Homo sapiens: one gene and its partners. The protein of the gene in region 2 interacts with the protein of the main gene of each other region in a biochemical or structural test. Each region holds a gene or a part of one and is shown on either strand. Other genes may lie near its edges.

Evidence for each region.
Region 1: of the proteins of WWP1 (region 2) and KLF5, one has a biochemical effect on the other in vitro, tested with the Homo sapiens proteins (4 studies listed by BioGRID, with this or other methods).
Region 3: of the proteins of WWP1 (region 2) and WBP2, one has a biochemical effect on the other in vitro, tested with the Homo sapiens proteins (2 studies listed by BioGRID, with this or other methods).
Region 4: the proteins of WWP1 (region 2) and NOTCH1 form a complex in vitro, tested with the Homo sapiens proteins (one study listed by BioGRID).

The regions. Positions count from the first base shown.
Region 1 is NC_000013.11:73,061,996-73,069,017, reverse strand, and holds part of KLF5 (Krueppel-like factor 5), read right to left. Parts: coding exon 6,284-7,022; intron 5,195-6,283; coding exon 5,135-5,194; intron 1-5,134. UniProt on the Homo sapiens protein: Transcription factor that binds to GC box promoter elements. Activates the transcription of these genes.
Region 2 is NC_000008.11:86,429,528-86,436,549, reverse strand, and holds part of WWP1 (NEDD4-like E3 ubiquitin-protein ligase WWP1), read right to left. Parts: intron 5,854-7,022; coding exon 5,799-5,853; intron 5,145-5,798; coding exon 5,060-5,144; intron 4,936-5,059; coding exon 4,807-4,935; intron 1,099-4,806; coding exon 1,023-1,098; coding exon of another isoform or gene 1,014-1,022; exon of another isoform or gene 1,012-1,013; intron 918-1,011; coding exon 846-917; intron 1-845. UniProt on the Homo sapiens protein: E3 ubiquitin-protein ligase which accepts ubiquitin from an E2 ubiquitin-conjugating enzyme in the form of a thioester and then directly transfers the ubiquitin to targeted substrates.
Region 3 is NC_000017.11:75,852,330-75,859,677, forward strand, and holds the start of WBP2 (WW domain-binding protein 2), read right to left. Parts: upstream 3,007-7,348; 5' UTR 2,969-3,006; coding exon 2,910-2,968; intron 2,816-2,909; exon of another isoform or gene 2,795-2,815; intron 1-2,794. UniProt on the Homo sapiens protein: Acts as a transcriptional coactivator of estrogen and progesterone receptors (ESR1 and PGR) upon hormone activation. In presence of estrogen, binds to ESR1-responsive promoters. Synergizes with YAP1 to enhance PGR activity.
Region 4 is NC_000009.12:136,543,034-136,550,902, reverse strand, and holds the start of NOTCH1 (neurogenic locus notch homolog protein 1 preproprotein), read left to right. Parts: upstream 1-4,854; 5' UTR 4,855-5,116; coding exon 5,117-5,177; intron 5,178-6,800; coding exon 6,801-6,879; intron 6,880-7,869. UniProt on the Homo sapiens protein: Functions as a receptor for membrane-bound ligands Jagged-1 (JAG1), Jagged-2 (JAG2) and Delta-1 (DLL1) to regulate cell-fate determination.

The DNA of each region.
Region 1 (7,022 bases), on a different chromosome or scaffold from region 2:
TTCAAGCAATTCTCCTGCATCAGGCTCCCAAGTAGCTGGGACTATAGGCATGTGCCACCATGCCCAGCTAATTTTTGTATTTTTAGTAGAGACAGGGTTTCACTATGTTGGCCAGGCTGGTCTCGAACCCCTGAACTCAGGTGATCCACCTGCCTCCGCCTCCCAAAGAGCTGGGATTACAGGCGTGAGCCGCCACCGCGCCCAGCCAAATATTATCGAGATTTTAAAACCAAAAGCTATGTTTAATATATTCCATGAAAAATGACTTTGGAGCAAAGACCTAGAAAGGAATTTTTTTTTTTTTTTTTTTTTTTGAGATGGAGTCTCACTCTGTTGCCCAGGCTGGAGTGCAGTGGCACGATCTCAGCTCACTGCAACCTCCGCCTCGTGGGTTCAAACGAGTCTCTTGCCTCAGCCTCCTGAGTAACTGGGACTACAGGCATGTGCCACCACGCCTGACTAATTTTTGTATTTTTAGTGGAGATGGGGTTTTGCCTTGTTGGCCAGGCTGGTCTCGAACCCCTAAACTCAGGTGATCCACCTGCTTCGGCCTCCCAAGTGCCAGAATTACAGGTGTGGGCCACTGTGCCAGGCCCTAGAAAAGAAATTCATATCTAAGGATCTTTTAGTACCCAAACTGAAAGTCAATATATTCAGCAGCAAATCTCAAGTACAGATTATACGAAGTATAACTAATAACATCTTACTACACATGTCAGTAGGCAATAAAGTCTTCTGCAAAAGACAGTAAGGCAGAAAATGGGAATGTAACCCCTTTACAAACTAGGCTTCCACTAAAAATCTTTCCAGGACTTAATGTGGAAATCTTTCCTAAACAGGGAATCTTGAACACAGTGCTTTAAGAGTCCATTTTGTGAGTCTGGCGTGGTGGCTCACGCCTGTAATCCCAGCACTTTGGGAGGCTGGGGCGGGTGGATCATCTGAGGTCAGGAGTTCGAGACCAGCCTGGCCAACATGGTGAAACCCCGTCTCCACTAAAAATACAAAAATTAGCCGGGCGTGGTGGCAGGCGCCTGTAATCCCAGCTACTTGAGAGGCTGAGGCAGGAGAATCGCTTGAACCTGGGAGGTGGAGGTTGCAGTGAGCCGAGATCGCACCATTGCACTCCAGCCTGGGGACGAAAGCGAGACTTCATCTCAAAAAAAAAAAAAAAAGAAGAGTGAATTTTGTGTTCCTATGTTATTTGTACAATGTTTCCATTTTCTCCTACGGGCGTGTTTCAAATTGTCCTTTTCCATTGTCAATCTCCAGTAAGCCACTCTGGGATCACTTAGTACACACAGAGTCCAATGCATGGAGTCTGGGTCTGAGGAATACTTGAGCCAAGTGTGTGTTGTTCAAAGACTTTCTTTGTACAAATGCTAATTTCTTGCCCTGTTCCAGATAGCTGAAACGGGGGAAAAAAAAGAAAGAAAAAATCTAGAAACGTTACCGTACCCTGATTTCCCAACAGCTTTTCCATATTCTCTAAGGTTAAGTGTATATCCACGCACATGAAGGGAACCGCTAGGACTTCAAACATCTGTGTTGAGTTCATGGTTTACTTTTTCAGAACTTTTTCTCTGGTAAGAACTTTTTAAATTTCTACAAATTTTTGTTTGAAGATACAGTCAATATATTTTCCTACTGATTTCAACTTGCCTCAAACCTTTGCAAACTTAGACATTATTTTAAATGTTCATTATATTAAAGAAAAAAGTAAGGTATGTGAGCATATAATACTGGTTGCAATAGACAGTTTATCAGTCATGTTGATTTATAAAGACAAAACAGTATACTTGGGAGCAACTTTAGAGTAATAGCAATGTGTTCCGCCCCTTGTAGACATCATGAGGCATACAAATTTCAGTACAATGTTCATTTAAATGCTGTTAAAAGTACAAATATTTTGAATTGGAAATACACCACTCATTGACATTGTTACCTAGAAGCAGCCATAATTATTTCTCACCAAAGGCATGATAAATGTATACACACACATACTACAAATAATACATGCGAACATCCACATCTATAAGGGGTGCTTCTACAGGCCTTATGCTATACTATGTATGTACAGATATAAATAAAATATAATTATTCCCTAGAATAGAAGCAAATGTTTCCAGTATTGTCTAATCACACAAAGAAGACAGAACTTTGTATTATTTATATGCGATTTCCTGATAAAGAAATCAAAGTATATGAACTTAGAAGACTTGAATGCTATACTTCTGGTTTAAGAAACTGATATATCATCTACTCTGTCATCTCAGATTACTTAAAAAGTTCTATTTTGTTAAGACTATTATTTGCTTAGGTTCAATTTGCAACCCAAGTTAAAGAAGCACTTCCAATCTAAAAATCCAGAAGAAGTAATTAAACTCAGATGTAGGCTGTTTTCATTGCCTAAATTATTTTTAAAACATAAGGTAACTTGACATTTTAAAGCAATTACAATTATTTTCCAAAGAAATGCTAGGGTGCTTCACATTCTGCCTGTAAAACGACAATCATTTAAAGAGTATTTTATGTCATCAACTGTTGTGTGGTTTTTAAAGTCCTCTGATCAACGGTCCGAGAGGGAGGAGGAGGACAGAAAGAAAACCAAAAAAAGCTATTACATAAGAGAAGTAATTTAGAAAAACTGTCCTAACTGTTCTACCTGGGCCTTAAAGGGAAAGAAAAAAAAAAAACACCTTTGCTGGCTTCAGATACATTCATTTAAAAACAACAGGCGGGCAGGGTGGGGAGGATGCAATGAGAGAACAGGTAATTTTAAAAGGCATTGTCTAGAAATGAGAAATGAGGAGAAAACAACCTCAATGCTCTATGATTACCCAAGAACAGGTTTAGCCAGATGAACAAGTCTGCTACAAACCCTCCCCAAGGCATTTGAAAGACTATCAAACAAAACTTTATTAAACTGGATTACATGTTCTCATTCATTAGATGTTGAAGGCCACAATGTTTATGGTCAGGTGAAAAAGCTGATGCAAGGGACCCAAACCAGGTCTCGGTCTTCTTTTCAGTCTGTTTTTATTAGTACAAGCATTGTTAAGACAACCCACGATTAAATGTATTTGCCGGCAGGTCAAGTTCCTGAATCGCAGGTATAAGCATTCAGGGCACTAAACCCTGACGGGGTGAAAGGCTATTCAGATATGGGTTTGACTACATCCCTGCAATAAGTAGTTGATTACATCGTTATATGCAATTGTGCTCTTTTATTAGGAGACTTTAAACCCAGGAAAATGTGTTCCCTCCTATCTCTCAAGGACTTCCAAAAGTGAAAAAAACAATAGTTCAAATGTCTTTATATTTCCATTTATATTCTGTAAAAGGACATTTTGGTATTTCTACATGGAATATTTTCCTGGCACTTGTCATTTGTATTTTGAAAACTTTAAGTTGGAGTTTTTATAACATGCTTAATTCATTTGTGTTTAACTATAAAAATTTCTACCTTGGGCTGCCTATGAAGGATCCTTCCTCTTATGTAATCAGTTTGTCTCCATGCAAAAACCTCAGGCCAAAACAGCCCGCTCATTTCATAGATAAATACATAAGATGCCTTCTCCTTAAAAGCAGTTTCTCAAAAAGCCCTGGAATCTACAACATTGTCATCGGATTTTAGTAAGTAGTGTTTATCACTGGGATATCAAGCAATGCTTCCTAACATGCATACAAAATGTCTGCAACCATATTCCTCTTAGGGCTCTACCTCAGCACTGACCTTTGTTCAAAGGCTTTTACTTTTTAATGCAGCAGTTAGAGATAACTACTTCATTTATCAAAACTCAATTTCCATAGTAACATCTAGCCTCGGGAGATTCAAGTCCTCACACTAATCCAACAACCCATTCAAAGGAACTGTTGAATACTTTGGTTTCCATAGCAATGATGGAATAATACATTTTGCTAGGTCATTGCTTTTATTAGCAAACTTATTCTCTGAACTTTAGGTAAGGCTGTATTTATTGAGGGAAAAAAACACAATCACTTTATATAAGTTCTTTTCTTTAGGGCTGCTCTTTTAAGAAAATCGCAAATAGTAACCATCTATATATTTGACAATATTTGGAGTATTTGGGGGGCCTTTAAAGTATGCCACCTGGTTTCATCTTAAAATGGCTTCTGATATAATTTTAAAGTTTAAAAGCTCTTAAAAGTGCTGGTCGGGCGCGGTGGCTCACGCCTGTAATCCCAGCACTTTGGGAGGCCGAGGCAGGTGGATAAAGATGTCAGGAGTTGGAGACCAGCCTGGCCAACATGGTGAAACCCCATCTCTACTAGAGATACAAAAATCAACTGGGCATGGTGGTGGGGGCCTGTAATCCCAGCTACTCGGGAGGCTGAAGCAGGAGAATCGCTTGAACCTGGGAGGCAGAGGTTGCAGTGAACTGAGATCACACCACTGCACTACAGCCTGGCAACAGAGCAAGACTCCATCTCAAAAAAAGTGACTGCTATAGATTGAACAAAGCAAATACAAAAGTAGAGGAGCTAAACTTAAAAGCATATGTAAACAAGAATGAATGTAAGCTAGAATAAAGATCAAGTCTCTCACACATACCAAGTTTAGGCTGGGGCTTGTAACCCATTTCTGACCACCTGATTTTAACACTGCAATTTCAGCACTACCTTTCATCAAGCACAGAAAACATACTAAACACAGATATTTTAACCTAGAGGTGAAACTAACGTTTTCACCAATTATGCAGTACACTCCAAATGGGAAAGTTTTTAAGAGTTTAAAATGGCTTTCTCAGAGCAAAATTATTTGCTATGGAAGAAAATGAGTTTTGTTTTGTTTTTTTTCCTTCAAAACACTGCCAGTATAAGTTTTAAAATCCATTAGTAAACATCGCTGTTTACATTTTTGGGTAATCAACTCTGAGCGGTGACAGGGCAAGAAGGCCTTAGTGAGGGAACATCACCGGCCTTCCTGGAACCAGATTTCTCATGGAACTGAATTCTGAACCAAGCCTGTGCTGAAAAGGTAGGCTATTTAAAAAAAAAAAAAAAAACAAAGTTGACAGGAGAAGAGATCAAACACGTGTTAGCTTTTAAAAGGATGAATACCACTTACACTATTTACACAACTCACAGAATTAACAAGAAAATTACATACCAGTGTGAGTCCTCAGGTGAGCTTTTAAATGAGAAGACTTGGTATAAACTTTTGTGCAACCTAAAATAAAGGAGAACAGCATGTCATTTTGGAGATCCTTTTGAAATCTTTACATTTGATGATTCAGTGTTTAAAATCTGGCTTTAAAGAAGAAATCTCTCATGCTAGATGAGATTATTTGAAGCTTCAGTTTTAAAAGTTTTAAAGAGCCCTCCCCCATTACCTTATTAAAGGCATGAAGTGATTTGTTTTATGTATCACTTTAACAGGAAAGAATACAGATAATCAAGCCAAACTACAAATGGAAAATTTGTGTTTATATTCCAGTAGGTGCTGTACTTCCGTATTAAGAGCTGCTATATGTTTTTTTAAAAATTTTAATGGCTCTAGAGCTGACAGTACTAAGCCATTATCCAAGATGACTGTAATTTTCTGTACTCCCACATTTCTTCTTTTTTCATTTAGCACGTCATGCCATATCATGTATCAGAGTCAATAAATTTTGCCATGTATTAATCATAAACTAGCTTTCCCAGTAACTTGTAAATATATTCCATGTATTGTCTTCAACTTATACTTTGGGCCATGTATGTCATTCAAAACTGAGCATATGCTCACGTGCCATCAAAACCATTCTTAAATCTGTCTTGTAGACAGTCTTGTACCTAACATCAAGCTAGCTGCCTGCAACCTCCACTTCACCACCAAACCTTATTTTCCCCCACCCTACTTTAATCTCTTTCTGGGGCACTTAATTTAGAATTAAAAACTGCAATTTATTCAATTGCCATTTTAAAGTAACTCTGGCCTAACTCGAAATAATATGTATTAGAAATTCAAATCTGTTTTAATATTAAAGAAAAAAAAATCCAAGGGAACTTTTTCCAGAATATTCTAGCCAAGTTTTTGATGCATAACATAAGCAACAGACAACTAACTGGTTTACATACCAAAGTTAAAGCACAGAGATAGGATAGAGAAAAAAAAAAAGGTAATTTTTTTTTTTTTTACTGTCAAGTACAACTTTCCTATTTAAAGCCATGAGGTTGAAAAGGGCACGCGCGTGCACACACGCACACGCGCGCGCACACAGACACACACACACACACACTACATCTATTGATGCTTCAACCAGGTAAGAGCACATACCAGGGTAATCGCAGTAGTGGATGCGTCGTTTCTCCAAATCGGGGTTACTCCTTCTATTGTATCTGACAGGTTGGATGTTTTGTGAGTTAACTGGCAGGGTGGTGGGTAAATTTGGATTGTGAATTGCCAGTTTAGAAGCAATTGTAGCAGCATAGGATGGAGGTGGGGTTAAATTCTGGAGCATCTCTGCTTGTCTATCTGGACTTCCAGGCTCTGAGCTTGGTGGTGACGGGGGAAAGTAAGTGGCCTGTTGTGGAAGAAACTGACTTGGCATTGTGTATGTGCAAGGGGGCATGCCCTGGAATTGTTTCACTGCAGTCTGCGGAACAGCAGAGGTGTGTGTGTTAAGGCCTGCCATGGCAGCTGACATAGAAACATTAAGAGTGTCCATTGCTGCTGTCTGATTTGTAGAACTGGGCATATCTAGATCCGGTGTATTCAGTAGCTGGTACAGGTGGCCCTGCTGGGTAGGGACAGAAAGATGAAGATCTGGTGTAGGAAGTTCTTGTTTGATGAAAATATTGTTCACCTCTGGAGCTGCGGTCTGGTGTGAGCTGAATATACTGGTGAACTCAGGGAGGGCCTGGGTCGGGGCCGGAGGAGGGGCAGTCGTTTCACTCTGGTGGCTGAAAATGGCAACAGGTTCTGTCTTGATGTGTGTTACGCACGGTCTCTGGGATTTGTAGAGGCCAGTTCTCAGGTGAGTGATGTCAGGGAGGAAGACGTTCATGTTGATACT
Region 2 (7,022 bases):
CTCTCATGGAGCTCACATTCTAGTAAGGAAGACAAAATACACTATGTTGGGTGGTTATGAAAAAGAATAAAGCACCATAAATGGCTGGAATGTGACTGTGAGGGAGAAGAGAAGGACTGCCATCTTAAAATAGTAGGCTCAGAGAAGGTCTCTCTGAGATCACATTTAAACAGAAACATAAAGGTGAAAATAAAGTTATTAAAGGAATTCTCAAATGGAATACAGTATCTACCAATTTAATTTTAATTTGATAGCATTATCAAAACTTTGAGGTAATAAATTCTTAGCCAAGTATTGTGTCAAAACAAGAATCAACTTGTTCCAAAAGCTGTTTAAGCTTTATTTTAGTAAATACACATCTAAATTCATGATATGTCTCTCAGTCTCAGTACCTTTACCTATAACATGGAGATACAATAAGTGCTATCTCAAAGGGATGCTGTGAGGACGAATGAAATAAAATGAGAAATGTAAGATGCCGGTGTTTTGCAAATGATAATCACTCAGTATATGGGAAGGTTTAGTGTAACTATGATTAAAATGGGCACTCAGGCCAGATGCAGTGGCTCAAGCCTGTAATCCCAGCATTTTACGAGGCCGAGGTGGGTAGATCGTTCGAGCCCAGAGGTTGAGACCAACCTGGGCAACATGGCGAAATTCCATCTCTATTTAAGAAAACAGAACAAAACAAAACAAAACAAAGGCACTCAACAAGTGGTGGTGGCAGTCATTATTATTATAGCTGTGTTCTGGGTGGTTTAAAAATCTCTAAAACCCTGACTTTCTTTAGATGCACAGAATACAATGAGACAAATGGTGTTTTATTCTGCTAAAATCCTCCTTACCTGTTGGAAGGAATCTTCAAACAATGTCTGCCGGGACACATTGATCTTTACATGACTAGGTAGTGCATTAGACTAAAAACAAAAATAATATCATAATATCATCTGAGTTATAGTATATGTATTGTATAAAGAGAAGACTAAATTATTGAGTATAAGATTTATTTACCACTATAGTACCTGGCACAAATAACGGAAGTGAGCAAGCTTCCACCTAAAGCCGCGTTCATAAGCAATTTGTGGACCACCTTTAGTTCTAAAGAAAAACAAAAATAAACCAAATTAACTCATAATAAAGTTGAATATTTAGTATTCAGTATAAAATCAGAGTGTACTAAAGTCCAACAAAATACCACAGGAAGATTTCTGCTGGGAGAGAAGGGTATACATACATGGTGGGCCAAAAGAAGCTCAAGTAATGGGGACTATTACAGCAACAGGACACACATATACACAAAGAAGGACATTGTATTTATGGCTGGATCTTTTGTTAGTGAGTTAAATGAAATATCAAAGTCTACTACAGACTATTTCAAAGAAAATCTTCGATAATCCTTAAATCTAAGGAGGACAGAGGCTCCAGACAGAAGAGACGTGGAAGGAAATTCTACCACATCCTAAGCCTAACCTAAAACCCAAACAAATATTCCTGGAGATAATAAGCAAAGCAAAATCAAATTCCTAGAAACAACATTGTCATCCAGATCACACGGTTCACGTGGTCAGTGAGAGAAAAGGCAGAGTTGGTGGCACGGCACCTAGGAATACAGGTTTTACAATATGGTTTGACTCACAGTGACAGAGCCTGGATCTCTTGCCTATTGATTGAGGGCCTGACAGGCACAAAGAACTTTCATAATGTTAAGGAACACTTTGGAACAGATGAAAAATGTTCTCTTGTGTTGTCAGGTTCAAGTGAATTCACTTACTCAAAAAGCATTTACTGAATGCATAGCTGGTACCTGGCTTTCTTCTAGACAGTGACAGCATTACTTATTAATAGGTAAAAATGCCTGTTTTGTGGAGCTTATATACTAGTGAAGGAGATAAGACAAAAAAATATAATAAATAAGTAAAGTACAAATGTCTTATCACTCCTGACCTAGAACAATAAAACAATAAAAAAGGCATTGTTAAAAGGACAAAGTATAAGGAGTGATATGAGAAGCATTTTGTGATTTTCAAAAGGGTAAAAGGAGTAGAGCTCACAGACAAAGTGACATTTGAGCAAAAACATGAAGGAGAGGGCAAAAGCCATATGGAGTTTCGGGAAAAGAGCATACCAGGCAGACGGAATAAAGGCTAAGACCCAAGGTGGAAGCTGAAGGTGTTGAAGGCACAGCTAGCGTCCAATGAAGCTAGAACACGGTGAATGAGGAGGAGCGAAAACCAAGAGGAGGTTGAAGAGATAAGAGGGGTCAGATCCTGTAAGGCCATTTAGGCTGTTGTAAAGTGTGCTTTTTACTCTTATTGAGATGGAAACCACTGAAGGGTTTTGTGCAAATAAATGACTTTTAATTAAATTTTGTTTTGGAAATTCAGTCTCTGTGCTGTATGGAGAGTAACAACATTGTACAAGGTGTGGGAAGAAAGCAGAGAGAGGACTCTGCTACCAAGCCAGGCAACAGATAATGGTAGCTTGGACCAAAATGGTGGCAATGGGGGTGGTGAGGCATAGCTGGATTCTAGATATGTTTTGAAGTTGAGGTAACTAGAATTCTTGATGGACTGTTTGTAAGGTAGGAGAGATAGAGGAGTTGTGGATGATTCTACATTTTTTTTTTTTCCTAAGATGGAGTTTCGCTCTTGTTGCCTAGGCTGGAGTGCAATGGTGCAATCTCGGCTCACTGCAACCTCTGCCTCCTGGGTTCAAGCGATTCTCCTGCCTCAGCCTCCTGAGTAGCTGGGATTACAGGCACACGCCATCACGCCCAGCTAATTTTACCATGTTGGCCAGGCTGGTCTCGAACTCCTGACCTCAGGTGATCTGCCCGCCTCGGCCTCCCAAACTGCTGGGATTATAGGCGTGAGCCACCATAACAAGGTGATTTCAAAATTTTTGACCCAAGCACCTGCTAGAGTGGAGTTATCAACTGTGACAGGGAATATCACAGGTAGAGCTGGGTTTTTGTTGTTGTTGTTATAATTTTTTTTTTTTTAGAGACTAGCTCTTGCTATGTTGCCCAGGCTGGTCTCAAACTCCTGGGCTCAAGTGATCTACCCGCCTCAACCTCCCAGAGTGCTGGGATTATAGGTGTGTGCCACCATGCCTGGCCAGAGAGCAGGTTTTACAGGACCTACCAAGAAGGAGTTACAAGTGGAGATGTCAATAAGCAGCTGAATATAGAAAGCAAAATTTCAAGTGAGAAGTCTGAGCTAAATTTGTGAGTCATTAGCAGGCACATGTTTTAAAAGCATAATACTGAGTAAGATGCATCAAGAGAATGAATGTAGTTAACAAAAAAAAAAAAAAAAAAAGAGGCTTAGGAAAAAAAGGAGGACTCGACAAAATAAAGATAGAAGAACAGAAACGCAGAGGGAAATCAAGAAAGTATGGCTCACAGCACTACTTTTGCCAGGAGAGAGAAATGTATTGTGTCAAATGTTCCTGGTAAGTCAAATCAGGCAGGACTGCAAACCAACGCCTGGATTAACAATGTGAAGATCATTGGTGCCCTTGCAAATTCAGTGTCAGGGGAACTTCCTTGGAGTTGGTTTAAAGGAGAAACTATGAACAGCAATACAGAGACAACCATGCAAGTAGCTTTCCTGTAAAGGGGAGCAATAAAAATGAACTGTGGGCTGGGTGTGATGGCTCACGCCTGTAATCCCAGCACTTTGGGAGGCCAAAGCAGGTGGATCGCCTGAGGTCAGGAGTCCGAGACCAGCCTGGCCAACATGGCGAAACCCCATCTCTACTGAAAATACAAAAATTAGCTGGGTGTGGTGGCGGGTGCCTGTAATCCCAGCTACTCAGGGGGCTGAGGCAGGAGAATCGCTTGAACCCAGGAGGTGGAGGTTGCAGTGAGCTGACATCGCATCATTGCACTCCAGCCTGGGCAACAGGAGCGAAAGTCCGTCTCAAAAAAAAAACAAAAAAATGAACTGCGATTGAACACATTGGTAAAGGGAAGAGTTGTAATTTCTTTTTTTTTTTGCTTTTTTTTTATATCTAGGAGAAATAACAGCTGATAAGAATAATTTTGTAGAGAAATAAAACCTGATAATGCAACACAAAGGTGATAACTGTTGGAGCAATTAAGTAGAAAAGTGGGGGTAGGAATCGAATGTACCAGCAGAGGGACGAGACTTTGATAATAACAATGACAGTTCATCTATAGGAACAGGAGGGAGGAGAGATGGTAGGAGACGGACAGATATGGTGGTACAACTTTGCAAAAGACCTTTTAGGATTGCTTCTATTTTCTTAGTTATGCAAAGACATGACACCTTAGAGTAAGAATGAAGGAGAGATCTGTCAACCGCTTAATTAAGGTATCTTTAAATCTGGAAAAATCATTTCACTGACCATCTCATTGCAGCAGTGTGATGTGGCAGTTAAGAGCACAGAGTCTAGACAGAGACTGACTGTCATCGTTAGAAACCAGCTCCATTACTTGCCTTATAACTTTGCACAGTTAGTTATGCTCCCTATACCTCTCCTCACTTGGTAAAGGGAAAAATAATAGTATCTACCTCAAGGGGTTATTGGAAGATAAAATGAGTTAATACCTATGAAGTACTTAGAACAATCCTCGGCACACAGTAATCACTACATAAATAGTTTACATGCTGCAAATCCATTGTCAAATGAGAGCAAAGACAGCTATACTAAGGTTTCACTTGTGTAGGTTTTCTTGAACCAAAAAGTAAAATGTTTTGCTAAACTTGAGGATAAATTAGAGACTAAATCTCATGTGCTCACTAAGCAATATTTAAAGGAGAACTTCAGGTTTTCACTCACACAGATGACTTCCCATTGCGAGGATCTTTGAATGTTGTTGTTCTTGTGTTATGATCAACAAAGTACCTTACACCTTCACGAGTATATCTAATTTCCCAGCCTTCTGGCAGGGGTTCTTCATTCTGTAAGCTAAAAGATAAAGTTAAAATCACAAGATGAACCTTTTCTAGGTACTAAAAATATCTCATTCAAGGTTGGTTGGTTCTACCTACTGATATATGCAAGACGACTTAAGGCTGCTGTATATACATACCCTTGAGTTCTTGGATCTTCCCACTGGGTTGTTTTTGTGTTATGATTCACAAAGTAAACCCTGTCTGTTGAATCCACTCTTTTTTCTGAAATATAAAGTGAGTATAATATTTAATAACTATTTAGGATCTATATATAAAATAAGGAACACATATAATTATATATAATATATATTATATATATAAAAACATATCAGGGATATATGTATCCCTTATATATTATAGAATATATTATATAGAATATAATATATATTATAGAGAATATAACATATATTATATTATAGAGAATATAATATATATTATATTATAGATAATTATGTAGAATATAATATATATTCTATAATATATAATTCTTTAATATATAATCTATTCTATATATTCTGTATATTATATATATAATACATATATATATCCCTTATAATATACATATATATATCCCTTATAATATATACATATATAATATACATATATATCCCTTATAATATATAATATATTTAATATGGATTATATATTCTATATAGTATACAGAATATATAACATTCTACAGAATATATAATATATAGAATATATAATCCATATTAAATATATTATATATTATAAGGGATATATATATGTTAAGGGACATATATAAGGGAGATATATATATATAAAATAAGGAACATATATATATATATATATATATATATATATATATGGAGAGATATATATCTCCCTTATAGATCATTAGCAAAAACAGCTTACCCCAGCCTGGTGGCAAAGGTCCATAAGGGTCATTTTCTGCAGCTAACATTGAAGCCTGATTGGAGAAAAGATTAGGGAGAGAAATAAAATAACAGTGTTTTAATATGAAAGTAGAAATAAGCCAAGCATGTGGCAGAATCACATTTTATAATAATTTTCTAAAAATATGATAAGGGGTTGGGCGCAGTGGCTCATGCCTGTAATCTCAGCACCTTGGGAGGGCAAGGTGGGAGGATTACTTAAGCCCAGGAGTTCAAGACCAGCCTGGAAGATCCTGTCTCTATAAAAAAAAATTTTTTTTTAATTAGCCAGATGTGTTGGCACATGCCTAAAGTCCCAGCTACTTGGAAGGCTGAAGTGGGAGGATCACTTGAGCCCAGGAGGTGGAGGCTACAGTGAACTGTGATCACACTACTACTGCACTCCAGCCTGCACAACAGAGCGAGAAGCTGTCTCAAAAATATATCTATATTATTATATAGACAGATAGATAGGTCCACATTATAAGGAAATATAGCAATTTCAAGACACAAAGTTCTTTGTTTTTTGAGACAGGATCTTCCTGCTCTATTACCCAGACTGGGGTGCAGTGGCGTGATCTCAGCTCACAGCAGCCTCTGCTTCCCGGGCTCAAGCAATCCTCCCACCTCAGCAACAACCGAGTAGCTAGGACTACAGATATGCGCCACCACACCCGGCTAATATTTGTATTTTTTGTAGAGACAAGGTTTTGCCATGTTTCTGAGGCTGGTCTCGAACTCCTAGGCTCAAGCGATCCACCCGCCTCAGCCTCCCACAGTGCTGGGATTACAGGTGTAAGCCACCGCTCCCAGCCAAGACACTAAGTTCATAAAATGTCACGAAGAGGAGACTATCAACTATCAAATTAATTATTAGTTTTTCGAAAATGATTTAAAAATAATACACTGGCATCAATACTTTACTCTCCCAGTCCTTCCATACTAATCTATAGAGGGAAGATGAAATGGGAGAAGAACATATAGGAAATTATGATGTTTAAATGAGGCAATATTATTTGTTTAAAAATAGAACAGTTATCACAATTTTCTTTAAAACAAATGCCCACTAATAAAACTAACACTCAACTCCAGTATCATTTATAGAAATAAACTTTTAATTAGTATCTTTTATATTTTCATACATACATAAAAACACATTTTTATGTATGCCTCCATTCTTATAACCTAGAAATATATTCTGAAG
Region 3 (7,348 bases), on a different chromosome or scaffold from region 2:
AATTTCCCAAACCCCGCTTATAAAGCCCCCAAATGATCAACATGGTAGCAGAGCTACAGGGCTCTGAAGAGGCCATCATCCCTCAAGCAAGTTAGATAATCTGGCTTAACTCTTCTATTTTCTTTATTTTTTTTTTTTTTTTTTGAGACGGAGTCTCACTCTGTCACCCAGGCTGGCGTGCAGTGGCGTGATCTCGGCTCACTGCAAGCTCCGCCTCCTGGGTTCATGCCATTCTCCTGCCTCAGTCTCCCAAGTAGCTGGGACTACAGGCGCCCGCCACCACGACTGGCTAATTTTTTGTATTTTTAGTAGAGACGGGGTTTCACCGTGTTAGCCAGGATGGTCTCGATCTCCTGACTTCGTGATCCACCTGCCTCGGCCTCCCAAAGTGCAGGGATTACAGGCGTGAGCCACTGCGCCCGGCCAACTCTTCTATTTTCTTTTAAGTCCTTGTGATAGATGTTCTGTTTTTGCTGGTTTGTTTTTCAAGCCTAAAATATAAACATGTCTAAGAGATGACTGTACAGATCACAATAGGACGTCCTTCGGGGTTCTTTTAAACCTGGGTTCTTAAGCGGGGTTTGCAGGAAAGTCCATGAAGCCCTTGAGATGATCACGTATGTCATATGTGCATTTTTCTGGGAGGAGAGTCCACAGCTTTCATCATTGTCAAAGGAGTTCACGACTTGAAGAGTAACGTTCACTATTTTAATTATAATTTTTTATTTTTTTGAGACGGAGTTTCACTCTTGTTGCCCAGGCTGCAGTGCAACATAGCGTGATCTCAGCTCACTGCAACCTCCACCTCCTGCGTTCAAGCGATTCTCCTGTCTCAGCCTTCCAAGTAGCTGGGATTACAGGCATGCGCCACCACGCCTGGCTAATTTTTTGTGTTTAGTAGAGACGAGGTTTTACCATGTTGGTCAGGCGGGTTTCAAACTCCTGACCTCAAGTGATCCACCCACCTCAGCCTCCCAAAGTGCTGGGATTACAGGCGTGAGCCACCATGCCCAGCCTAATTATCAAATTTTGGACACTGGACTTAACACTTCAATTGTTATAGATACAACTTTTTCAGACAGCAGGCTGAAGCACTTTCTAAAACAGCAGGCTGAAGGCACACCTTACTTAGCAGGACTGAGCCCTAAGCCAGGTAGAAGGCCGAGCAGGATAGATACATTCTTGTCTCAGAAAGTTCCACAGAGACAGAAAGAAAAACAGTCCCCAGAGATGTTGCCAAATGGCACGAAAAGCTGGCCAGGCCTGGGAACTGACTCACACACAGAGATGCAACAAAACAGTGTGAGGTGTCTCTGATTACATGATAAAAAGGTTCACACGGTTCTGTTTGTCTTCTGCCTCCCCCCATATATCACAACTTTCTCTGACTGGGGAAGGGTAAGTGGGAAACAACTGGTATAAGCAAAGGAAAATGGCTGGGCGCGGTGGCTCACTCCTGTAATCCCAATACTTTGGGAGGCCGAGGAGGGTGGATCACGAGGTCAGGAGTTCGAGACCAGCCTGCCCAACATGGTGAAACCCTATGTCTACTAAAAATACAAAAAATTAGCTGGGTGTAGTGGCGGGTGCCTGTAATGCCAACTACTGGGGAGGCTGAGGCAGGATAATCGCTTGAACCCAGGAGGCGGAGGTTGCAGTGAGCTGAGATCGTGCCACTGCACTCCAGCCTGGGCGACAGAGCAAGCCTCCATCTAAAAAAAAAAAAAAAAAAAAAAAAAAAAGAGAAGAGAAGTACTGCTCAGAGAAAAGAAGGAATTACCAGCAACAGGCTGGGCCCATGAAACTCTGAGCGGGTAAGATAGAGGGAAAGTGAGCATGCTGGGTCACTCTAGGCATTTTCCTCTGACTCATCAAACATTCCCAAGTCACAGGGCAGCTGGATGCTGGCCTTAGCTGGGTACAGGGCTCTGACTCCACGATGTCTCCTTTGGGGACTCAGGTGCCTCCTAAGCTCCTTCTGCCTTCAAGAGGCAATTCAGGGTCGGCATAGTTCAACCCAGGGCTGGCTGGTCTGATTTTCAATACCCAAGGAACAAAAGGAGACAGAGGCCATTTAAGGCTTCTCTTGGCAGAGACTGGAGGAGAGACAGGATGCAATGAGCAAGGGGTGGGGAGGATGGAGTGGAAAGAACCTTGAATTAGGAGAGCTCTGCCTTCCGAGGTGACCCAAACCAACAGGCATTCAAGAGAGAGGCAAGGGAATGACTACGGACCCACACAGTGCCAGGAACTGTTAGACACCTGACAAACGTCATCTGTTTAATTTCACCTCTGGGACCTCAGTTTTTTACCGGGAACCTGAACAGTTCTGGAACATACTGGAAGCCTGTATGCTGGTGGTTAATCCTATTAACTTTGGAGTCAAGACTCCTTTCCTGGAATTACCACCTCTGTTACTTACACAGTTGCGATCTCGGGCAAGTTACTTAACCTTTCTGCCCTCCACTTTCCCTACCTGTGAAATGTGGACAGTAGTAGATTATACTGCACAGAATTTATTAAATAAGGTAGAAAAGGCGCAGAGCCTGACACGTAGTAACGTTGTAGACATCCAATAAGTGACAATTATTTTTGTTTGGGGCTCCTCCCAGCTACTGAAATCACAAGTCTGGGAAGGGGTTCAAGAATCACCCCTAGGCCCCACCGGGGGCCCCATACCAGGTCCCCATGCAGACGTCCCACCCCCGCCTCCCAGCTGATCACAACCTCCCGGGCTCTCCCCCACGGCCCACCCACCTTCCTCCAACCCCGCCCCCAGCCGTTCCCCACCAACCTCACTCCATCAGTGCTCCCTCTTCAGGGGCTTATTCCCCACCACCCACCACCCACCGCCCACTTCCTCGACACCCGAACTTTGGTCCTCCAGGATCCTTCCGCAGTGTTTTCACCTCTCGGTGTTATTGACGATCACTCCGCCGCCCTCCGAGTGATTCTTGTTGAGCGCCATAGTCTCTCCAACAGGGGTCCCGAGACTCAAAACGCAATGAGCTTGCGCCCCTCTTCGCCCCGCCCCTAGTGGCGTCTTCTTATTAGAGTCAGCCAATCAAAGCTCGAGTGCGGAGGCTGGCCCAAACACCTGACCCGAACGTCACGTGGTAATAGTTTACTCCCTCCTTCCAGTTCCTCCTGCGCAACAAACAAGATGAAGACTACAATTCCCAGCAGGCAACGCCCCCGCAGCCTCGGCCTGTCCCTATGCTGGAGGAAGGATGCATTCTGGAACTTGTAGTCTCCTGGATCATAGGCCTGAATTGGTTCCACATTTTGCGTAACCAATCGGCTTGTGCCATCCCCACCCCGCCTCTTCAGCCGGACGGAAATAAACAGTTCCGCTCCTGGCAGGGGCGCGATCTTGGGGACTCCGGCAGCGCGTTAAGGGAAGTCCTGCTGGTCGAATGCGACCTGGACATGGCGTGGGAGCGCCGAGCTGTCCCCTTGTGGATGGGGAGCTTTCGTTCACTCAGCAGACGTTTATGGGGCGCATGCGTGACTCTGGGGCGTTTAGCTGAGCCGGAGGCCCCGGCTCTTGGGGACGCGGTGGGCTGGCGGCGTCGGATCACCCCGCCATCCATCTCACCACTCCCAGCGCTGAGCCCGGGGGGCGGGGAGAGTCCCTCATGGGAAGGGGAGGCCGTGTGCCCCGCCTGGCTCCCACCACGTTCGCAGGCCGGCCGGGCGCCCCTCGCAGCCCCCTCTCCGGCCTCGCGGTGGCGCCGCTCCCCCCTTAGCGCCCAGCGGGGTCCCGGCCGGAAGACTGAAGGCTGAGTGGGACTGGGCACGGCGCGAAACCGGCATCCTGATAACTAGGATTTACAGAATAAGGCTGACTCCTGTCAGCTCGTGACCCAGCCCTGGGCGTCCTCCACGGGGCAGCTGTCATTCCCTAACCGCCCCCCACCAAACCCCTGCACCTCCGAGCTGAATCCGTGAGGCGGAGAGAGGGGGCTGCACTTCCCACGTGGTAGTTCCGGTACTCGTTAATGTTAAGGAATTAGAGTTTGCTTTTCAGTAGACAGCTGCTTTCCTGACTGTGGTGGCCAACCTCTAGATCCACCTGCTTGACTTCGCTTTCCAGGGAGGTCTCCTATGTGAAGAAACAAAGCTGCCTCACTAGAAAAGATCAGGAAACAGCAGCGTTCTGTGAGGTCCTGTGCAATACCAGGTTGGACCTTGCGGGACAAGTACAGTGGGTTAAGGATAGTCATAATGAAATCTGCCCCAATGGTTAGATGTATTTTGGCGCCTGCAATCTCTGCAGTCTTTAAAAAGAATTAAGTCAGACTATGTGCTGATATGGGAAGATCATCAAGGGTTATTAAGCACAGAATGCTGTATACATATAGTTGTATTTGTATAAAAAATAGGATCTAGATAGAAAATTTTTGCAAAGATCCATCAGAAAATGTCTGTGGCATTTTTGAGACATGGGTCTAGGAATTTGGGGTGGATTGGTGACTCGGTATGTCAGTATGCATTGTACTCTTTGGTACTGTTTAATTTTTTTTTCCTATGTGCGTTTAAAATATAAATTTAGGCCGGGCGCGTGGCTCACGCCTGTAATCCCAGCACTCTGGGAGGCCGAGGCGGGCGGATCACGAGGTCAGGAGATCGAGACCATCCTGGCTAACAGAGTGAAACCCCTTATTAAAAATACAAAAAAAAAAAAAAAATTAGCCGGACGTGGTGGCGGGCGGCTGTAGTCCCAGCTACTTGGGAGGCTGAGGCAGGAGAATGGCGTGAACCCGGGAGGCAGAGCTTGCAGTGATCTGAGATTGCGCCACTGCACTCCAGCCTGGGTGACAGAGTGAGACTCCATCTCAAAATAAAATAAAATAAAAATAAATAAATAATATGTAAATTTAAAAAAGAAAAGCAGGCCGGGGTTTGTGGCTCACGCCAAAGGCGTGAGCCAAATTCCAGCACTTTGGGAGGCCAAGGCAGGTGGATCACCTGAGGTCAGGAGTTCAAGACCAGCCTGGCCAACATGGTGAAACTCCATCTCTACTAAAAATACAAAAATTAGCCGGGCATGGTGGCGGGCACCTGTAATCCCAGCTACTCGGGAGGCTGAGGCAGGAGAATCGCTTGAACCTGGGAGGCAGATGTTACAGTGAGCCAAGATCATGCCACTGCATTCCAGCCTAGGCGACAGAGCAAGACTCCATCTCAGAAAAAAGAAAAAGAAAAGCAAAATCCAGGCCTGGTGCCGTGCCTGTAATCCCAGCACTTTGGGAGGCCAAGGTGGGTGGATCACTTGAGGCCAGGAGTTTGAGACCAGCCTGGACTACATGGCAAAATCCCATCTCTATAAAAATACAAAAATTAGGCCGGGCGCGGTGGCTCACACCTGTAATCCCAGCACTTTGGGAGGCCAAGGTCGGCGGATTACCTGAGGTCAGGAGTTCAAGACCAGCTGGCTAACATGGAGAAACCCCGTTTCTACTAAAAAATACCAAAAACTAGCCGGGTGTGGTGTTGTGCGCCTGTAAGCGCCTGTAATCCGCGCGCCTGTAATCCCAACTACTCGGGAGGCTGCGGCAGGAGAATCCCTTGAACCTGGGAGGTGGAGGTTGCAGTGAGCCGAGATCACGCCATTGCACTCCAGCTTGGGCAACAAGAGCAAAACTCCATCCCAAAAAAAAAAAAAAAAACGCAAAAATACAAAAATTAGTTGTGCATGGTGGCGTGGTTCCTGTAATCCCAGCTAATAGGGAGGCTGAGACATGAGAATTGTTTGAACCTGAGAGGCGAAGGTTTCAGTGAGCCAAGATCGTCCCAGTGCACTCCAGCCTGGGCAACAAAGGAAGATTCTGTCTCAAAGAAAAGAAAAAGAAAAAAAGGAAAATCCCCCCAGCAAAGAGCAGGCAGCATTGGCTGCTCTAAGGACCATAAATGGGAAGATGGGGACAACCTGCCCACCCCTCTCCCACCCCTTTGCCAAATACGTTGGAGACAGGAGCAAGTTCAGGTTTTGCCAGGCCTTGAAGCTTATACAATTTTGGAGGCTGTCTTGGTTGTTTATGTTTTTGTTTTTTGAGACAGGGTCTCATTCTGTCACCCAGGTGCGATCATAGCTCACTGCTTCCTTGGAACTCCTGGACTCAAGTGATCTGGAGGCTCTTTTTAAGAAATAAAATACACAGGCCGGGCGCAGTGGCTCATGCCTGTAATCCCAGCACTTTGGGAGGCTGAGGAAGGTGGATCACCTGAGGTCAGGAATTTGAGACCAGCCTGGCCAACGTGGTGAAACCCCGTCTTTACTAAAAATACAAAAAATTAGCTGGGTGTGGTAGCGGTCACCTGTAATCCCAGCTACTCGGGAGGCTGAGGCAGGAGAATCGCTTGAACCCTGGAGACGGAGGTTGCAGTGAGCTGAGATCAAGCCACTGCACTCCAGCCTGGGCAACGAGAGGAAAGCTCTAACTCAAAAAAAAAAAACAACCCCACAATTATTCATTCACAATACTGTGGCTACAGTGAGGCCTCCTGACAGGAGGGGAAATGACAAGAAGAGGAAGTTGCAGTGCAGAGATAACAAGCTTGACCAGCTCCGGCTACAATGTCCAGAATTTCTAAGTTTTACAAAAACATATGACCATGTGAACACACTTCCTGGGCGGCTCCCATGACTTTGGGGCTGGAACGTACCAGAACTCAAAACTCAAACCGAAGACTTCAACAATGGTTTATTGCTGAACCAGGTGAGCAGCAGGAGGCTCCCCTGGGCCCAGGTCTCAGTACTCAGACCTCTCCTCTGGCCTCATACTCCTGTCTGCCTGTCTCCAGATCTCTTTTTCACTGCAGTATGATGCTCATATTCTCCACACTGGAGCACATCTTAGCGGTGCGCTAAGGAGGAGTGCAGGTTGGCCTCAGATACCAGCAGGCAAGGTCTGGGGCAGCTGAGCCCCTGAACTGGTCACCTGTTTTTTCTGTTTATAATTTTATTTATTATTTATGTATTTATTTTTGATACAGGGTCTTGCCCGTCTCCTGGGGTGGAGTGCATTGACATGATCTCTGCTCACTGCAGCCTCCGCCTCCCGGGTTCAAGCAATTCTCATGCCTCAGCCTCCAGAGTAGCTGGGACTACAGAATCGTGCCACCACGCCCAGCTAATCTTTGTATTTTTAGTAGAGATGGGGTTTCACCATGTTGGCCAAGCTGGTCTCAAATTCCTGACCTCAAGTCATCCGCCCACCTAACACTCCCGAAAGTGTTAGGATTACAGGTATGAGCCACCGCCCCCGCCTGGTCGCCTCTTGACTCCCAATAAGATGAATCTGTTTGCCCCAGTGAGCCAAATAAATACCATTTTCACTGAACA
Region 4 (7,869 bases), on a different chromosome or scaffold from region 2:
CCCACTTCTCAGGGCTGGGAGACCATACCCAGGCCTATCTACTGTCTTTCCCACTGAGGTCTGTGCTCTGAGCAGTCTAGGGGCTTCCAGGGACAGGCAGGTGGGTCTGAGCCCTGAGCCACGTGGAAAGGACGGGCAGGTGGCCTCCACCTGAGATCTGCACTGCACCAGCCACCCCCCAGGCCCAGCTCTAGAATGACAATGCCAGGTCTGCCCCATGGCCAGTCCTGCAGCTCTCGAGGCCTACACCAGCTGGGGCCTTCTCAGCTCACCTGCTCAGGAGGCCCAGTGCCTGCCCGGGGACTTGCCCGGGCAACTCACTCCCCCAGCCTCTGTGCAGAGGGGAACAGCAGGGCCTGCCTCTCGGATGCTGACCCTATCCCATGCCTCATGGGCAGCAAGGGGGGCAGTTTCTGCATGGGGACCACTGGAGACACTGAGTAGACAGGGCCCCGGGCAGAGTCCTGGCCACAGCTGGGGATCACTGTCCTGGCAACTGGGTCCAGGGAGGGTACCAGGCGCCTGGCGGGAGGGCTGGCCACAGCAGCAGGCTTGCATGGACAGCCAGTTGACTTTGCACCAAGAAAAGCCCCTGCCGGGTCTGCGCCCACATTCCTTCAGCTTCTTGCAGTCACAGGTCAGTCAGCAAACCTTCCGGAGCCTCTGGTGTGGGTCGGAATGGTAGGGATGGGCTCTGCCTCACACACAGAGAGTGGGCCAGGAAGGCTTCATGGTCAGGGGTGCTCAGACGGCCGAGAGCCTCTGGGATGGCTGAGGAGTCTCAGGGACACGTGGGAAAGAGACCCCCTCGGCAAAGGACGAGGCCTGCAACAGCAGAGCAGGGAAGTCCCCGGCACAGACCGAGGGGTGCAGGGCATGGGGAGCCCCTGTGGGGGCCAGGGTGAGATGCCCAGCACCTGCAGGCACCCCTGGGCCTGGGTGACGGTGGCTGTCTGCACACAGCAGGGGACCAGGAAGCAGATTCCAGACCCCAGCCTCCTCAGAACAAGGGCCGTTCTCTGTTCTCAGAACAAGGGCCGGCCCGAATCCATCCTAGAGCAAGGACTGCCAGGTGCGTCACAGCGGACCGCCCAGCACAGGGGACCAGGTAGCAAGCGAGACACTGAAACCACATCTGGAAAAATGCCCAACCTCGAGGAAATGTCCCAAGTTCTTTATAAGTGGAGAAAGGCAGATGGGGCTTTAAAAATCACTTGGTGCAGCAGAACCTGAGGCCCGGCGGCCAGCGAAGGCCCCACGGTGTGCCCGATGGTCAGGGGCTGCAGTGGATGGGGACGTGGAGGCTGCGTAGGAGGCACCCTGGAGGCTGGACACCCTGGAGGCCTCTGGGCTTGAGCTTTGCACACAGGTCAGATGTTTTTTACAGTCAGCTTCAAACGGTGAAGGGGCCCTACTCCTAGGTGGTCTGGAATGTTCCCACAGCTGCCTGGTGGTGGCCCCCACCCAGGACCCAGCAGGGTACCCGCCACAGGACGTCCCCGCACTCGGCCCCGCCTCAGAGCCCCCACGCCCCCTGCTTTCAGTCCCAGGGGCCACTCCAACCTGGCCACGCCAAGCCATGGTCCCTGCACCGAGTCCAGCCTGCTGCCTTGGGCGGTGAACAGACTGTGAGTGTGGGGGAGGGGAGGAGTGTCCCCCAACACCTCCTGGGGGTCCCACTTACCCTACTGGATGACAGCAGCTGAGGACCAAGGCCTGGCTGGGCCTTGAGCTGGCATCCTCATGATGTCTCTGAGCCTCAGCTTCCCTCCTGAAAAATGGGGAGCATCATGCTAGCCGCCCCCCAGCGCCACAGGGTCATGGGGGCTGCAAGAGCCAAGATGAACTCCTGCAGGAAGGAAAGGGGCCTTGGGCTCAGCACCGGGAGTCTCAGCCCTGGCTGCTCCTTAGAATCTACTGCAGAGCTTTCAACACAGGCACCCCTCAAATACACCCACCCACCAGGTCACTGCTGACCCCCCTCTACTCGGACCACATCTCTCTGGGGCCGGAGCCGGCCCTGGGGTGTTTTAAGGTCACCTGGGTCTCCATGAGCTCCGTCGCTGTCCCCGTGTGCTCACCAGCTGTGCTTACCTCTCCACGCACTTAGGGGTGTGCTCTGCTCTCGAAAGTCCCCACAGCAGCCGCAAAGGAGGGGCCTGGTTGGGCCAATGTCAGCAGGGCCTCCTTAGCTCACCCTGACAATGGTACCCCCATTTCTCTGGCAGCAAACAAGGGGGAACTGACCCAGTTCAGTCTCCTGGGGTGCAACGCCTAAGCCACTCTCCCCTCAGCACCCGCAGGGGGCCTCTGAAGAAGAGAGGGCTGCAGGACACGTCTGCCTCTCCCCTCCGCAAACCAGGCTCTGCGGCCCCATCTCATCTGCTTCCAGGCTCCCTGGCCAGCTTGGGAACAGCCCCATTCATTCGGGGTACCCCTGGAACCTTGCCCCAGCTCCCACCACAAGTTGGGACAGGAAGCCCAAAGTGACTCCTACAGGGGAGGCCTGGCGGCACTGCACCCCAATTCAGCTTCTTGGGGTCCTAGCCCCCACCCTCCCATTGGGTTTCTGGAGTGGCTGGGGTGCCCTGCACACAACCTGCTCTTGTTTCTCTTTAGTCCCCGCAATGCCCGCTGCCCAGGGCTGCCTCCCGACCTGTAGGAGAAGGTCTCCAGGCCCTAGGCCAGCAGATGTACTCCTGTTGTGTCAGGACCCCAGCCTCCCCCGACTGCCCACACCCGCTGGCCTGACAAAGAGGAATGGGGAGCCCGGACAACTTGTGAATGAAAAAGCTTCTCACCTACTTGCCAGGGGCCTACCCCCTTCCCAGGCTGGTGGGGAGGTGAGGCCCATCCCCCTCATCCCTGGCTTCTCCTCGGCCACAGCTGTCCATGGGGTACTCCCGGCTGTGGGTGGTGCAGGGGTTGGGAGCTGGGAGGCCGAGGCCTGTGCTTCCCTCGGGCCTGTGCACCCGGCCGCACCATCCGTAACGCGGGCTTATGAGCGTGCCTGGCTGCTGGGTGGCCTGACGGGTGGACACCGAATGGGCCACTCTCTTCTCTGCTGGTAGAGGATGGAGGCCCAAGGTGGAGGTGCTGTCGGCACAGCTGGGGCAGACCAGGGGAGACCCCCTATCCAGGGATCCCCTCCTCCCCTCCCAGGCCGCCCCTCCGCAAAATGCTGAGGACTGGCCCCCGGGCCTGGGCTACATGGGCCATTACTTCTGGCCTGGGGCCCACAGGCAGAGATGCCAATGGAGGCACACAGGCAGTCGCACCCGCACCCGATCAGCACCAGGCCTGAGGCCTTCGGGCCTCCCTATGCCCCACCCCACCCCCACCCACCAGGAGCAGAGGACGTCGTGGTGGGCAGAGTCCTCAGCCTGGGAGCTGCACAGCCCCGCGCTTCCTTCTATGGAAAATCTGCTCCTCCAGGCTGCCTGGCTGCTGTTACATAAACATCTCTGCTGCCTCCAGGCGCCTCCTCTCCTGGGGCGCTGACCCCAAGATGTTACCCCAGGCCTGCAGAAGTGAGGCCAGATTCTGGGAGGACGCAGGCGAGGGAGGCTCCCAGCAGCAGCTACAGGGGCGGGACAGGCCGCCTGCACTGGCTGTTTCCAGAGTGCTCAGCATTTGGCAAGAGGTGTGCCAGGAAAGGCTTGCTGGGGTCAGGTGTGAGATTTGTCCTGCTTTCTGTGCCTGCCTCTGCCACCATGCTCTGGGGTTTCTGCAGCCCTCCCCCCAGGCCCCCACAGTCCTAGGTCCCTCCCAGCCTTTCGGTCTCCCCGCAGGGCAGGCTTAGCCCTCCTACTCCAGGAGGGGCGCCGGGACACGCGCCTTCTGCCATCGCACTCACCACCCTGTGTTGGGGTGGGGAGGGGGCGCTGTCTGTCCCTGGCACGAGGCCGTGAACTTTGCGCAGGGACTATGGCAGGCATTTTGGACTCCTGGCGCTTAACCAGGCTTGGCACAGGGTGCCCGTGCCTGGCATCGTGGTGGAGAAATAAATCAGCCGGAAGGAGCACGTGGGAAGGGCTGCGCCGGCGCCAGCGGCAGATCCGCCCGACCCGTTTGTGCTTTCTGGGGCCACCTTAGGCAGGCGGCGCCCGGGCAGGAGGAGGACGGTGACCGAGGAGCGTGTCGACGCGGGTCCCCCTTGGGGGAGCGGGGCACAATCCGTCCGCGAGGCACTGGTCCCGGCTGCTCCCTCGGGGCGCCCGGAGTCCCCTGCCCAGAGGCCGCGGCGCCCCCATCCCTCGCGGTCAAGTGCTCGGGCAATCACGGCCAGGGATGTCTGGCGGCGATCGATCCTCTGGACGCCTAAAGCCGCGGCCACGGGGCCCTCGGGAGGGAGTGAAGCCGCTGGGCTAGGGGCGCACACACGGCTAGGCCACTCTCCCAGAGCCCTGCCCCGGGCCCGGGGTCCCCCAACGTGGCCTCAGCTGCTCCCCGCCCGGCCCAGCGCACGGTGCACACGGCTGTCCGCGGCCTCGCCCTCCCCATTCCGCCCCGGGCTCCTCCGCTTATTCACATGCAAATTTCAGTCGCCAGTTGTCGCCGAGCGCGGCAACCGCCAGAGCCGGATCCTTCCGCAGCCCCGGCTCAAACTTTTGGCCTCTGAAAACTTTCAAACGAGAAGTAGTCCCAGGCGCCCGCTCCCGACCCACGCCGCGCCGCCGGGTCCCTCCTCCCCGGAGAGGCTGGGCTCGGGACGCGCGGCTCAGCTCGGGGAGGCGCAAAGGCGGACGGGGCGTGCGGGAGGAGGTGGCCGCGGAGGGGGCGGGGGGACCGGCGGGGGTGGGGCCGGGCGGGGCGGGGCCGGCGGGGGCGGAGCGCACCTCGACTCTGAGCCTCACTAGTGCCTCGGCCGCGGGAGGGAGCGCAAGGGCGCGGGGCGCGGGGCGCGGGCGCGGGCGCGAGCGCAGCGAAGGAACGAGCCGGGCGCGGAGCCGGGCCCGGGGGCCTGCGAGAGCACAGCGCCGCCAGCCAGCCGGGGAAGAGAGGGCGGGACCGTCCGCCGCCGCCCCGGGACCGTACGCCGCGCGTGTGCGTCCCAGCCCCGCCGGCCAGCGCAGGAGGCCGCCGCCCGGGCGCAGAGGGCAGCCGGTGGGGAGGCATGCCGCCGCTCCTGGCGCCCCTGCTCTGCCTGGCGCTGCTGCCCGCGCTCGCCGCACGAGGTAGGCGCCCACCCACCCGCGAGCCCCCACTTTCCGCGCCCTTTGGAAACTTTGGCGGCGCCCGGCGCGCGCGCCCCACGGCTGGGAGCGGGCGGCGGGGAGGCCAGCATGGAGAGGGAAAAGCGGGCGGCCCGGGGCGTGGGGTTCTGGAGTCCCGGGATCAGGGAGGACCGACCTTCCCCCTCGATCCCCCCGTGGAGGCGGACTCGCGCCGCCCGTGCCTGGAGCCGAGTTAGGAGGCCGGTGTGGGGTGCTGGGGCCCCGGAGGCCCTACTCCGGGCCCGCCCTTCACCCGCCGCGCGTGGGGCTTGCCGCCGGTCGGCCGGGCGGGCGGGCTGCCTACTATTTTTCGATTTGAATAGAGTCGGTTTTGGTTTCCTGTTGCTTCTCCGGGCCATTTATCTTCTTTCTTCTTCGCCTCTGGCCCACGCCGGGGCGGATGTTGGGGCGCGGAGTGTGGGCTCTGCGGCGCCGCGTTCGCCTTCACTGACCCGCGCGGCCGGGCTGGGTCCCCGGGCTCCCGGTCGCCCCGCCCGCCGGTGCCCCCCAGCCCGGCTCTCAGTTTGGGGGAGGGGTTGCGTAAGAAGCCGCCGCGCCCGGGGGGACTGAACTTTCCTTTTGCTTTGCGGAGTTGAAGTTTGGAAAGCTTGGGGGCGGAGAGCGGGACGCGGGTGGGGGGCTCTTACATTTCTCCCCGCCGCACAGCGAGCGGGGTCTCTGGGGAATCGAGTGATTAATCCACTCTTTCTCCGAGAGTTGGAGGCGAGAATTATCTGTCCTCTTCCAGAAAGTGCGGCTCTGTGTCACACCCCCCTCCCCCGTTTCTCAGCCCCGGTAAGATGGGGAGGGAGGGGCTTGAGTAATTGATCCCTTCTCGAGATGGGGTCGAATTCCTTCCGAATGGGGGACCTTCATCCCCCTCCTGTGGGTGTATGGGGGCTGCCCTGGAGATGCGCGCCCGCGGAGGCAGGTATTGGGTGTCGGCGGAGGCGGGGCCGCGTCCCCAGGGTGCTGTCCCGGTGCCCCTGGAGGCGGCCCCGACTCCACAATGGGCCGCTCTGATTCTGAGGCGGAGGCCGGCGCTTTGTTGGCGGGCGGGGTAGCGGGCGAGCAGCTGTCGCATTTTCCCACGGGCGGGAGCTGAGTGTGGCCACCCCCCCTCCCCCCGTCCAGCTCTGCCCCCTTGCAGAACGGGTTTGAACAGAGGCAATCTCGGCGGCTGGATGGGGGGCCCTGCCCTGCCAGACTCCTCAGTGAGCCTCCAGGGTGGGGGGCAACGCTTTGGAGAGTAGCCCACTTTGTCTCTGCTTTTCCCCCACTGCGTCCAGGCGGCACATCAGGCCACCCCACCCTGCTTCAAGCAGGACGTGTTCCCTGCTGCTCCCCTTCCCCCCATTTCTGACTACAGAACTCTGGGCAGAATGTTGACGCCCCTTTGGTTTCATGGAGGGGCTTCCTGCGGACCCGTGCCCCAGCAACCCATGATACTGAGCAGAGTGCGTCCGGGGTAGGGGGCGGACGATGCCCCTTGGCTGGGTGCAGGTCCCCGCCCCCAGGGTAACCAGGGCCTTCGGTGGTGGTGGTGCGGGTGAGACTGACCTCTCTTCTCCTGCCCCTGCCTAGGCCCGCGATGCTCCCAGCCCGGTGAGACCTGCCTGAATGGCGGGAAGTGTGAAGCGGCCAATGGCACGGAGGCCTGCGTGTGAGTACCACCCCTGCGGGACCTGTTGCTTTGTCGAGGGCAGAGCCCCTGCCTTCTGCAGCCGCGCAGGGGACAGAACACTAGGCCATTGTCTTCTGGAGATGGCCCAGAGTCTGGGCACGGTCACGTGCTGACTTTTATTGGACAAAGTCTGGCAATTACTTAATCACCAGCAATTATGCTGCGTGTGGAGCTGGTCTGGCTGCTGAGGGCTTGGGCACTCCTCCGTGGGCCACCTCAGGCTCCGGGGTCACTAAGTGGGAGTCCCAGTACCCCAATTCTTCTTTAAGTCCCCAAGAAACAGTTGATCTGCCAGGGGAAGCTCTGGACCATTTACTGAGAGGCCCAGCCCCCACCACCCTGCCAACTTGGGGCGCCTCCTCTGGGCGGGTGATGCCTCCTGGGCACAGGTGATGCCTCCTCTCGGGGGTGATGCCTCCTAGGTGGGTGGTGATGCCTCTTGGGCTGGTAGTGATGCCTCCTCTGGCACAGGTGATGCCACCTCCTGGGCGGGTGATGCCTCCTCTGGGTGCGTGATGCCTCCTGGGCTGGCGGCAATGCCTCCTCTGGGCACAGGTGATGCCACCTCCTGGGCGGGTGATGCCTCCTCTGGGTGCGTGATGCCTCCTCTGGGCACGGGTGATGCCACCTCCTGGGTGGGTGATGCCTCCTCTGGGTGGTGATACCTCCTCTAGGTGGGTGATGCCTCCTCTGGGTGGTGATACCTCCTCTAGGCGGGTGATGCCTCCTCTAGGCACAGGTGATACTTCCTGGGCAGGTGATGCCACCTCCGGGTGGGTGATGCCTCTTCAAAGGAAATTGACTCTTCAAAATCGGACCCGCCTTTGGGCTCTCTGTTTGCCCCAGCTCCCTCTTCCCGGCCTCAGGCTGGGGCTGGGGAAGAGAAGGTGGAACTCATGTTTTGGCGTGGGGTGTGGGGTAATTATTGAGTCTGGTTTCTGTCCTGGCATCTGCAAACTCTGACCTCAA